3 linked regions of the Homo sapiens genome follow. The protein of the gene in region 3 interacts with the protein of the main gene of each other region in a pairwise test. Each region holds a gene or a part of one and is shown on either strand. Other genes may lie near its edges. The genes, in order: KRT27, TRIM74 and BEX2.

Region 1 (3,827 bases), on a different chromosome or scaffold from region 3:
GAGCCAGCCGGGTGGAGCTTCTACCTCCTCATGATTCTTCTTGAGGTAAGCGAGCTCCTCACTGAGAGTTTCCAGCTGGATCTCCAGGTCCGTTCTGCACAAGGTCAGCTCATCCAGGACTCTTCGCAAACCATTGATGTCCGCCTCCACGCTCTGGTGAAGCGCTAGCTCGTTTTCAAACCTTAGAAAAGTATTTGGAAGTTTCATCATTAGTCATTAGACATGGCACATCACTTTTTAGATCATCATACAACTCAGACTAAGCTTTGAGGTAAAACTACTAAGATAATACTTAAAACTTCAGGCCGGGCGCGGTGGCTCACGCCTGTAATCCCAGCACTTTGGGAGGCAGAGGCGGGCGGATCACGAGGTCAGGAGATCGAGATCACGGTGAAACCCCGTCTCTATTAAAAAATACAAAAAATTAGCCGGGCGCAGTGGTGGGCGCCTGTAGTCCCAGCTACTCGGGAGGCTGAGGCGGGAGAATGGCGTGAACCTAGGAGGCGGAGCTTGCAGTGAGCCGAGATTGCGCCACTGCACTCCAGCCTGGGCGACAGAGCGAGACTCCGTCTCCAAAAAATAAATAAATAAATAAATAAATTAATTAATTAAAAAAACACATTTCAGTTAGGTCATCTATCATGCAATAAATACATTTCATTGAAGCAAGAGAATGGGAATAGCCAAAATTCTTTCTCATATGACTTTGACACTCGTTTTTGTTAGTCCCGAAATTTCCCAAGTAAAATTTGTTGCTCAGCTAGTTACTCATTCTAACAGGCATTTTGTTTAAAACAAATACATGAATAAACAAGAACAAAGGCTTGAGACAACGTCAAATAACTTAGAAGAATAAAGGAGAAAAAATGCTTAGACAACTTTTTTTTCCCATTTATCTTCAGCTCTACTTACTTTAGTCTGAAGTCATCAGCTGTTAGTCTTGCATTATCATTTTGCAGGACAACATGGGCATTACTGGTAGTTGCAGAAATTATCTGACAAATGAAAAGTTAGTTAAGATTGAGGAAATATTTAAGATGCATTTCAAAGTTCCTTGAAATAAAATTACCCATGAAATTATAGTAATATTTCTGGCATCTGTCTCTAATAATCAGACCATTCTTTTGAAGATGGGTAATTTAAGTATGGTCTCTCTCTCTGTCTTTTATTTTGAGACCGAGTCTCGCTCTGTTGCCCAGGCTGGAGTGCAGTGGCACGATCTTGGCTCACTGCAACCTCCACCTCCCAGATTCAAGTGATTCTCCTGCCTCAGCCTCCCAAGTAGCTGGGATTACAGGCATGTGCCACCACGCTCGGCTAACTTTTGTAGTTTTAGTAGAAACAGGGTTTCACCATGTTGGCCAGGCTGGTCTTGAACCCCTAATCTCAAGTGATCCACCTGCCTTGGCCTCCCAAAGTGCTGGGATTACAGGCTGAACCACTGTGCCTGGCTGGGTATGGTCTCTTGTATTTCCCACCCCAAGCATTAAAAAAAGCTCTTTCTATGGGAAAGCCTATAAATATATAACTGGAGACACTGGACAGCTTTTGATATTTTAATATTACCAAAAGCATATACCTAATACTACATGATGGACGTGCCATGTTCAAATATTAGAATTTATTAGAAATTATTTTTAATATTGAAAATGAACTCCTAAAATTTAGAAGCTGAGGGCAAAGCCCTGTTATTGTGATAGCTTATACATTTGTGCATCTGTGAGTGGCTAAACACTCTCAGGAGTGCTAACACTCACGCCATGGCGTTTCTTACCTGGTTCTTAAGTTCGTCAATAATTGGGAAATATCTGCTGTAATCATGATCAAGGCCACGGCAAGAACCAGGTCCAAATTTCTCATACCACCCCTTGATCTTCTGCTCCAAGTCAGCGTTGGCCTCCTCTAGGGCTCGAACATTCTCCAGGTAGGAGGCCAAGCGGTCGTTGAGGTTCTGCATGGTCACCTTCTCATTGCCAGAGAGGAGGCCGTGCTCATTCCCTGTGAAGGCAGCACAGGAAGCACTTCCCCCGCCCAGACCTCCGCCATAGCCTCCTGCAGATGAGCTGCCCCCAAAAGCACAAGAGAAGCCACTTCCAATGCCTGGCACACCGCATGTGTTTCCAGCCCCAAAGCCTGCTCCCCCACTAGAGAGCCTCACAGAGCCAGTGCCCCCGCAAGAGCCAAGTCTCCTGGAGGTAGAAGAAAAGCGCACAGACATGGTGTCCGGAGGCTGGAGCCTTTGTTTCTGCGGTGATGCTCTGATGGTGAACGGCCTACTCAAACAGCTTGGTTTGCCTTTATATACACATTATTAGGGTGTTTCTTGATGAGCTTTGCTCATAGCCAAATGATGTTTGCCAGCTCATTGTGAATTATCCATAATGGGGTGATTTTTTTTTTTTTTTAATGAATGGCTTTACCATACTGTGTCCATTTCTGTAGGTGGATAGTTATTGTGGGGTTATTTGTTATCTCTGGAGTTGGACAGGGTGGAGTATTATCAGGATTATTATAGTGATGCATTTCAAATTTAGTATGAGTAACTCTTCCTGTCTTCCAGGCTTCAGGAATGCATAATACCTATAAGAATAAAAAAGTATGATAGACAGATTTCTCTTTCCCTTGCTCAAATCAGCATTGCATTTTCTTCAGCAATGAAGTATCATAGTATCAGAAGAAGGAGGGGAGGTCCTAAAGGAAAACTGAGGCATTAAAGGGAATCTTCTTTGGAGACAGAAAGTGTTCCTTTGATCCTTATCCTTCCTGAATTACCATTTCATCTGTACTGGTTTTCTGTCTAAGTTCCATTGCTAACCAGGTTAAGTAAAGGAATTGGTCACCTCCTCGGGCCTCAGTTTCCACATCTGTAAAGTGAAGGGTCTAGACTGTGGTCTCTATATTCACTTTCTGTCTGTAGATTGCTCATATTTCTGCATTCCTTCTATTGGCTGTCCATTTCCATAGCACTTTTCTGCATTGCTTCTTGTACTTTTCACCTCTTATTTCTGAATTGTGGTCCCACTATTTTACTGAAATTAACCTCTCAGACATCACTGCACATCTCTAATCATCATTTCTTTTATTTTTTCCCCTATACCCTCTTGGTTACATTCAATACTGACAACCTCAGTCTGATGAGTCTGATCGAGTTTCAGACAGTTGCTTTCTAAGAAATTTTCTACATCTCATGTTGCTCCCCTTTTCTCTTCCACTTATAGCTCCTGTGCCCTACCTTTGTCATTTCTTATAGTTTTGTGCTTGGTATTTACGACTCTCTCTCTTTTTTTTTTTTTTTTGACAGGGTCTCGTTTTGTCACCCAGGCCAGAGTGCAGTGACATGATCACAGCTCACTGCAGCCTCAACCTCCCAGGCTCAAGTGATCCTCCCACCTCAGCCTACCAAATATCTGGGACTACAGGCACACGCCACTATGCCTGGCTAATCTGTGTATTTTTTTGTAGAGTTGGGGTTTGCCATGTTGTCCAGGCTGGTCTTGAATGCCTGGGCTCGACAGATCCTCCCACCTTGGCCTCCCAAAGTGCTGGGATTATAGGCAGGAGCCACCTCACTGTCTTAATGTAAATTTTCCCGCACTGACTTGTCCGTTCTGTTTTACTACTTCCCTCTTTCCCATCTCTTTGCCTTTGTTCATGTTATTCTTTCCACCTGGTTTTCTTCTTCAGACTAAAAATTATAACAAATCATTTGAGATCTTGCATTTGCCAAGAATGATTGACATCACTTTCAATTACCTAGATTGAAAATGAAGTTGGCAAAAATATAAATTTTCATGACTTAATAAATGAGCTTGCGGAAAAAAAGCCAG
Region 2 (3,827 bases), on a different chromosome or scaffold from region 3:
ATGCCTAGGTCTCAAGGGGAGAGAACATGGCTGTTTTACCAAAACCCAGCCTCAGCAAAGTCAATTCAAAGAACCTGCGCTCTGAGCAGTCTTCCCAGCCTGAGGCATGGTGCCTCATCTCGCTCCTAAACAATCCCTTCTTCTCCAGCTCCTACTCTGAATTTACCCTCTCCAAGTTTCATTAGCCGAGGAGTTTTCCTAAAGTAATTAGAATCGAAGGGTCTGTCCAAGTGTTCCAGGTATCCATACTATTTCACTAGAATAGAGGAAAGAATGTAAGGAAAATGGACCCAAAACACCCACGCCTCCATAATATCGAGTCTCTCATGATCACACAGAAACAATGCGATCAGATGAGCTTAAGCTGCCCGACACCACGAGGTACAGGAATAAATCTCTCTGCATTTTAGGAGCCTGCCCTTCGGCTCAGAGGTTCAAGAGCTTCATGGAAGCATCACGCAAAGGGGACATAGGGGTCCTTAGCTTTCCTCTTAAAAAAACTAATTCATGGCAGAAGCAGCGGCTCACGCTTGTAATCCCAGCTACTGGGGAGGCTGAGGTGGGAGGATCACTTGGGACCAGGAGTCTGAGACCAGCCTGGGCAACATAGAAAGTGCCCCATCTCTACAAAAATATTAAAAATTAGCCGGGCATGGTGGATTGCGCCTGTAAATCTCTTATTTGGGAGGCTGAGGCTGGAGAATCACTTGAGCCCAGGAAGCAGAGGCTGCAGTGAGCTATGTTCGCACCACTGCACTCCAGCCTGGGGAACTGAGCGAGACCCCGTTTCAAAAACAAAAATCCACTTCAAACAAAGCATTTCCAACCCCATTAAATGCTTTTTGAAAATGAGGCCTCTCTCTTCCCAACAGAGTGCGATGACATGGATCCTGCGGACAAACCGCCCCAGGGCGTACCTAGCACCGAAGCATCAGGCGCCACTAGGTCTCCAGCTCCTTCTCGGATGACGTCCTTCAGCACGCCCCGGTCCCCCGAGATGTCCAGCATCCTCTGACTTAACCGCTCGTACAGGGACTGATGGAGAATGAAAGCCAGGCCTCAGAGCCGCAGACCCACCCGGCCACCCCTCAGCGTCTACGCCCCCACGTCTGGGCCCTCACCTGGCCGGGGGCGTCGTCCCCTTCCAGGACTCCCTGGTTTAACGCGCTTCCCCCCATGTCCTAGCTGCCCTCCCTGTGGCGTGAGCCTTCGGCCTGGTGCGCCCCGCTGCCCTTCCTGGCTGTGACTCTGGTGGGGTTCCGAAGGCCCCTTTATGCCCGGCAGACCCCTACCGACGGCGGCATTCCATTCTGGGGCCACGAGGAGGCACTCATCGTTTCGTTCCAACCGCCGCCAACGGCCCTGGCCCTCGCGAGCTCTGGAACTACAGAGGTCGCACGGTGAGTTGCCAGGTGTGGCCCGTAATCGGAGCGCACAAAACATGATGGGACACGTAACGGGACCACACAGGGCACATTGGGCACTTGCAGGGGCGCGAGGTGGCGGCACGTAATGGGAGCGCGCTGAGCATGATGGGGCATGTGCGGGAGCGCCAGGCGGGGCATGTAACCAGAGCGTGCGGGGCATGATGGGGCACGGACATGGGGGGTTAGGTGGGGCACGTAATTGGAGCTCGCGGGGCAGGATGGGGCATCTAACTGGAGCGACAGAGAGCACGATGGGGCACTTACAGGGGCCGGAGGCTGGGTACGTAATGAGAGCGAGCGGGAAATGATGGGGCACCTAACGAGCACGCAGAGCATGATGGGGCACGGGTGCGAGGTGGGGCGCACAGTGGGAGCGCGTGGGGCATGATGGGACACATGGCGAGGCCGTCAGGGCACAGGGGAAGCACTTTTGGAACACGTGAGTGACAGGGCTGCCGCCCTTGAAGGAGCCCTCGGAGTGGCTGCGTGGTGGGGCACGTGGGGCAGGTTCAGGAAAAAGGATGCAGCATGTGATTGCAGGGCAACCTGGTGAGGACACGAGAGCCACCTGCCACCAGCAGGGTTCAGGGCTCCCAGCTGTGGGTTACTTCCACCTTCTTTCACTTTCCCTCTTCCATTGTATTCTAGAGAATTTAGGCCCAGACAAGACACTGATTGATTGATTGATTGATCGATTGACAGAGGCTCGCTCTGAGCCCAGGCTGGAGTTCAGTGATGGATCTCAGCTCACTGCAGCCGCCACCTCCTGGGCTCAAGAGATCCTCCTGCCTCGGCCTCCCAAGTAGCTGGGATTACAGACGTGCACCACCAGGCCCAGCTAATTTATTTTTTAGTTTTTAATTTGCTGGTAAGATGGTTTGTAGCTTTGTTGCCTAGGCTGGTCTTGAACTCCTGGCTTCAAGCGATCCTCCAGTCTTGACCTCCCAAAGTGCTGGGATTATAGGCGTAGGCTACAGCCAACTTTCAATACTGCCCCATTGGGGGTTACGTTTCCAACACATGAAATTAGGAGGATACATTCAAACCACAGCAGTATATTATGACCATAATATTCATTAACTGTGTAACAGGCTGGGCGCGGTGGCTCACACCTGTAATCCCAGCACTTTGGGAGACCAGAGTGGGTAGATCACTCGAGGTCAGGAGTTTGAGACCAGCCTGGCCCACATGATGAAACCGCCTCTCTACTAAAAATACAAAAAATTAGCCGGTGTGGTGGCAGGCGCCTGTAACCTCAGCTACTTGGGAGGCTGAGGCAGGAGAATCACTTGAATCCGGGAGGTGGAGGTGGCAGTGAGCCTGATTGCACCACTGCACTCCAGCCTGGGCAACAAGAGCAAAACTCTGTCTCAATAAACAAACAAACAAACAAAACCTGTATAACAGAGTGTCATTGAATTTCTAAACGTTGAAAGACTTCACATTAAAAAAAAACTCACAATTTAATATTATTGAGTGAAAGAAACCAGACACAAAAGGGTACATTCTATATGATGCTGTTTATGTGACATTCAAAAACAGGCCACATGACAACATGGTAATAAGGACAGTGGCTGTCCTTGTTAGGAGTTATGACTGGAAGGAGGCAGGAGGGAGCTTTCTGGAAACACTGTACATCTTGCTCTTGAGAGTGCACGTATATACATCAAGTGTTTATCAAGCTGTGTGGTTAAGATTTGCACACTTGTATATGTTATACCTCGATTTAAAAAATCTAAATAAGTAAATAAAGATACCTTCAAATCTTTAAAAAAAAAAAAAAAAAGAGGCCAGGTTCGGCGGCTCACACCTGTAATCCCAGCACTTTGGGAGGCTGAGGTAGGAGGATTGCTTGAGGCCAGGAGTTCAAAACCAGCCCAGGCAACAAAGTGAGACCCCTGTCTCTACTAAAGTAAATAAAACAATAAAATAAAAAAAAAAATTCGAGAGATCGAACCATCATCTGCCAGTTTGTATTAGAAAAAAAGAGAGAGAGAAGGAAGACTGCGTGCAATAAGGCTCATGCCTGTAATCCCAGCACTTTGGGAGGCCAAGGTGGGAGGATTGCTTGAGCCCAGAAGTTGAAGACCAGCCTGGGCAACAAAGCAAGACCCGGTATCTACAAAAAAAATTTTAAAAATTAGCTTGGCATGGTGGCACGTGCCTGTAGTCCCAGCTACTCAGGCAGCTAAGGTAGGAGGATGGCTTGAGCCTAGGAGTTGGAGGCTGCAGTGAGCTGTGACCACGCCACTGCACTCCAGCCTGGGCAACAGAGCAAGACACTGTCTTCCCCTGCCCCCCAGCCCCCCACCCCCCCCAAAAAAGGATATAAGAGCAAGAGATTGAGATTCAGAAAGAACTGTTTCCCAGCACCTGTCTGCTCCTGTCGGGGTCGTGAGG
Region 3 (3,600 bases):
GGGTCATGCATGTCAGTAAGAACAAGAACTTGGGAGAAAGCTCACAACCTCATTACCTTATCTGGTCCATACAACAAGCCTGGGAGGTGATTGTCTTCATCTTACTGATAAATATTATTATCTTCAAAGAGATGTGTCTCTTACATTTCTAAAAAGAGAACCCAGAGGCAAGCTAAAATTGAGATTCTGTCACAAGTGTTTAGTAAGTGCTCACATCGCTTTTATAAGGTGGTCACATTGCTTTTTATCAGTAATACGTGTTCCATTTTGAAAAATAAGAAATTATGGGTAAGCAAGAATAAACTCCCTCTTAATTCTACCACAGAGATAAACACTATTTACTATATATATGTGTGTGTGTGTATATATATATATATATATATATATATATATATATATATATATGACTGTTTAGGTGCATGTTTAAGATTTAAAGTAAAAAAGAATGCAGAGAATGCTTTTTAAAACTGTTTTATTAACTTCACAATATATAATGAGCATCTTTCCATGCAATAGGTAAAACTCTCCTGCTGACAGAAACTTACAAACTGGGTCAAAAACAACATTCATTTAGAAGCTGGTAATAGGAGACCCACAAGAAATAGGTAACATCAAAACGTTTACGACAAAGGTACACCACAAATGTGTAAGTTTAGGAAGCAGGGGTCTCCCTATTAACTTCAGGGAAACCATCAGGATTCAGGGCATAAGGCAAAACTCATCGTGATGGTCATGGTGAGGGGGATCAGTGCTGACTGCCCGCAAACTATGACTCAACTGCTTTTCCCTCAGCTTTTCCATCAGCTGTCTCACCTCCTCCCCAATCCTTTCCATATTCTCCTCTCTCATCCTTGCCTGTGGCTCTCCAAGCCTATGCATTATGTCCCATCTATACTGCAGGATGGGCTGCCTAACGCGGAACCGCCTACGGTTTCCTCTAGGCACACAGTATTCACTAACATTCAAAGGTAGGGCCAAGGGCTCCCCTTTATTAGCAACTTGCTCCTTTTCATCTTTTTCATCATTTTCCTGGTTGACATTTTCCACGATGAGATTGTTTAACGCTCGTTCCTCTTTGGACTCCATTACTCCTAGGAGACAGAGAGAAAATGGACTCAATTCTTGGTGAACTGATCAGCACCGAGGACAGAGGCCCGACTACCCACCTTTCAAAATTCAGAGCCCTGGATTTCAAAGGCCTTTTTTAAATTTCATTTTTTTTCCACCAGAGAGGCCCCATGTACCCTCGGGGGGGCGAGGGGAGCCAGTCTGTGCCCTTCTCTCCCGCAAAGCCCACCATCTTCTCTGCAGATCCATCTCCAGGCCTCTGCAGGCACCAAAATGGAGGACGAAGAAGGGGTGGGGGTGGGGGATTGCTAAGTGTGGGGGTGAAGGCACGGATTGGGGTCTCAGACTGGGCTTTCCTCATGTTCTGACCCCCTCCCCACCACCGTCCCTCGCACTGACCTGGGCCTATCCTTGCAGTCTCCTCCTCCCGATTCTCGACGTGAGGTGCGTCGCCGCAACACTTGGCCCCGCAAACCTGCAGACGGCCGGGGTGGGAAGAGTGGGGGCTGCTGCAGCGGAACGCTAGAGAGGACCCGCCGCCACCCGGCCCCTTCCCCACGCCGGGCCCGGGCCCTCCTAGCCGCTCTCGCCCCCCGCCTCAGCCGCCCAGCCCCCCAAGCTGACCACCATTTTCTGCATCAAGAAGGGCGGAGCAGGGGTGTTGGAAAAGCTTGCGCTGGTGACGGAGGCAGGTGCTTCCGAAAGGTCGTAGCCTCAGGATCGCCGGCTCCCGCGGGGCCGGGCACCCCTCCGCTCACACAAGGCTCGCGGTCCCGCGGCGGGGCCCCGGGGCTGCATCGTGGACCGGCTGCGTCTCCGCGCTGCTGCCCGGGGATGGGGCATCCGCAGGCCGGGGCTGCTCCCCCACACCAACCCCAGGGACCCCCTCCGGGTCCCTTACCTGCTCCCCCTCCGCTTCCTACTTTCGGGGCCGTACCTGGCCCGCACGTCCTCAGGGACACCGGGAACAGGTACCACTGCCGAGAAGGGAGCGAGCGACGGCGGTTCTGACGCCACAACGAGGTAAGACTCAGTGTTGGCCGATCACGTGTGGCTGTTGTCATCGCCAGAGGCTCCGCCCCCGTCCCACGCCCCCTCCTGCAGCCCGGAGTCAGGTGGTGCTTTCGGGCCCGCCCCCATCCTCACCGGGAGTCCCTTTTAACATCCCCAGCCTGGGCTCTGCCACTCTTCCTTCTCTGTATATTCTTGAGACTTCCCCTGCTTGCCCAGGAAGGACGGAAGGTATCTTCTCAGGGAGCTGTTGGCCATTCCCACTTCTCTGGGGACTTGCCTCTCTCTGCCCTTGGCTCCCAGGATTCACCTCCTTCTGCCTGTCTACCTCCTTCTGTCCTCCTACCAATATTCTCCGTTTTCTCTCCACTAAAATGAGTGGAAGAGGTGTATCAGGAAAGGAGCACAAGAGAGTAGGCTTTTCTCATTCTTAATACCTTTTCTGTATTATTTCTTTTGTAAAACACAAAAAATTAATATACTTCTTTAAAAAGGAAAAAAAGTTATTTTTACTTGAAAGACGGGATTAAAGTTGGGCAAAATGTCCCAACCACCTGTCCTGTTAAGTCATTATATAAATATAGACTCTACACGCAGCTGCTTTTTTAGAACTTGGAAAAGGACAGGGCAGCTGATGGCTCCCCTTTTGAGGGGCCCCTGGACACATGAGGCCCTTCTATGAAATGAGCTAGTGAGTTGTAGTGCTACAGAACCTTGTTGGGTTTTCATAACTAAAAGGAAAAAAAAGGCCTTTTTCACAAATTTCTGGTTCAAACGATAAGTATGTCTTTATTTAAAGATCAAGTAATCATGTATTTAGGAAATCCAGAGACATCTACGGTAAACCTACTATAGGAGTAAGAATTGATTTTAAGAAGGTTGCAGCTACAAGATAAATATTACAAACGTACTCATAAATTTATTTGAAAATGCAAAGGACCTAGAATAGACAAATAATTTTTTTAAAATATCCTACAAATCTTGAGAGTTACATTATATTATTTCAAGACTTAAGGTGTAATAATAAAGTTAGTGTAGTAGTAAACATAGACCTGTAGATCAATAGAACAGAATAGACTCCAGAAATAGACCCATACGTATGTTGTTAATTAGTTTTTGACAAAGATATCAAAGTAATTCTATATGGAAAGTATAGTCTTTTAAACTAATGGTGCTGAAATAACAGAATTCTTAAAGGAAAAAAAGGAGCCTTGCCTTTTATTTATACTATACACAAATTAATTCAAAATGGATCCTAGGCCTAAATGTAAAAGCTCAAATTAGAAAACTTCTAGAATAAAACATACAGAAAAACTTTACAATCTTTGAGAAAACAATTCCTTAGGACACAAAAAGAACAGATCACAAAAGAAAAAAATAAGAAATTGGATTTATCCAAATTAAAAACTTCTACCATTTAAAACACATGGTTAAGAAAATGAAGTGAGAAGCTGGGAGTAAATATTCACAGTATTTGTATCTGACAATGGTTTTGAATTCAGAGCATATATAAAGAACTTC

What was found.
Region 1: the proteins of BEX2 (region 3) and KRT27 interact in binary tests that used the Homo sapiens proteins (3 or more experiments, as listed by UniProt).
Region 2: the proteins of BEX2 (region 3) and TRIM74 interact in binary tests that used the Homo sapiens proteins (3 or more experiments, as listed by UniProt).

Annotation. Positions count from the first base shown.
Region 1 is NC_000017.11:40,780,276-40,784,102, forward strand, and holds the start of KRT27 (keratin, type I cytoskeletal 27), read right to left. Parts: upstream 2,276-3,827; 5' UTR 2,219-2,275; coding exon 1,775-2,218; intron 996-1,774; coding exon 913-995; intron 182-912; coding exon 25-181; intron 1-24.
Region 2 is NC_000007.14:72,967,165-72,970,991, reverse strand, and holds the start of TRIM74 (tripartite motif-containing protein 74), read left to right. Parts: upstream 1-1,525; 5' UTR 1,526-1,707; intron 1,708-3,827.
Region 3 is NC_000023.11:103,308,891-103,312,490, forward strand, and holds BEX2 (protein BEX2), read right to left. Parts: upstream 2,101-3,600; 5' UTR 1,970-2,100; exon of another isoform or gene 1,708-1,969; coding exon of another isoform or gene 1,693-1,707; intron 1,544-1,692; coding exon of another isoform or gene 1,468-1,543; intron 1,092-1,467; coding exon of another isoform or gene 1,087-1,091; coding exon 700-1,086; 3' UTR 456-699; downstream 1-455. UniProt on the Homo sapiens protein: Regulator of mitochondrial apoptosis and G1 cell cycle in breast cancer.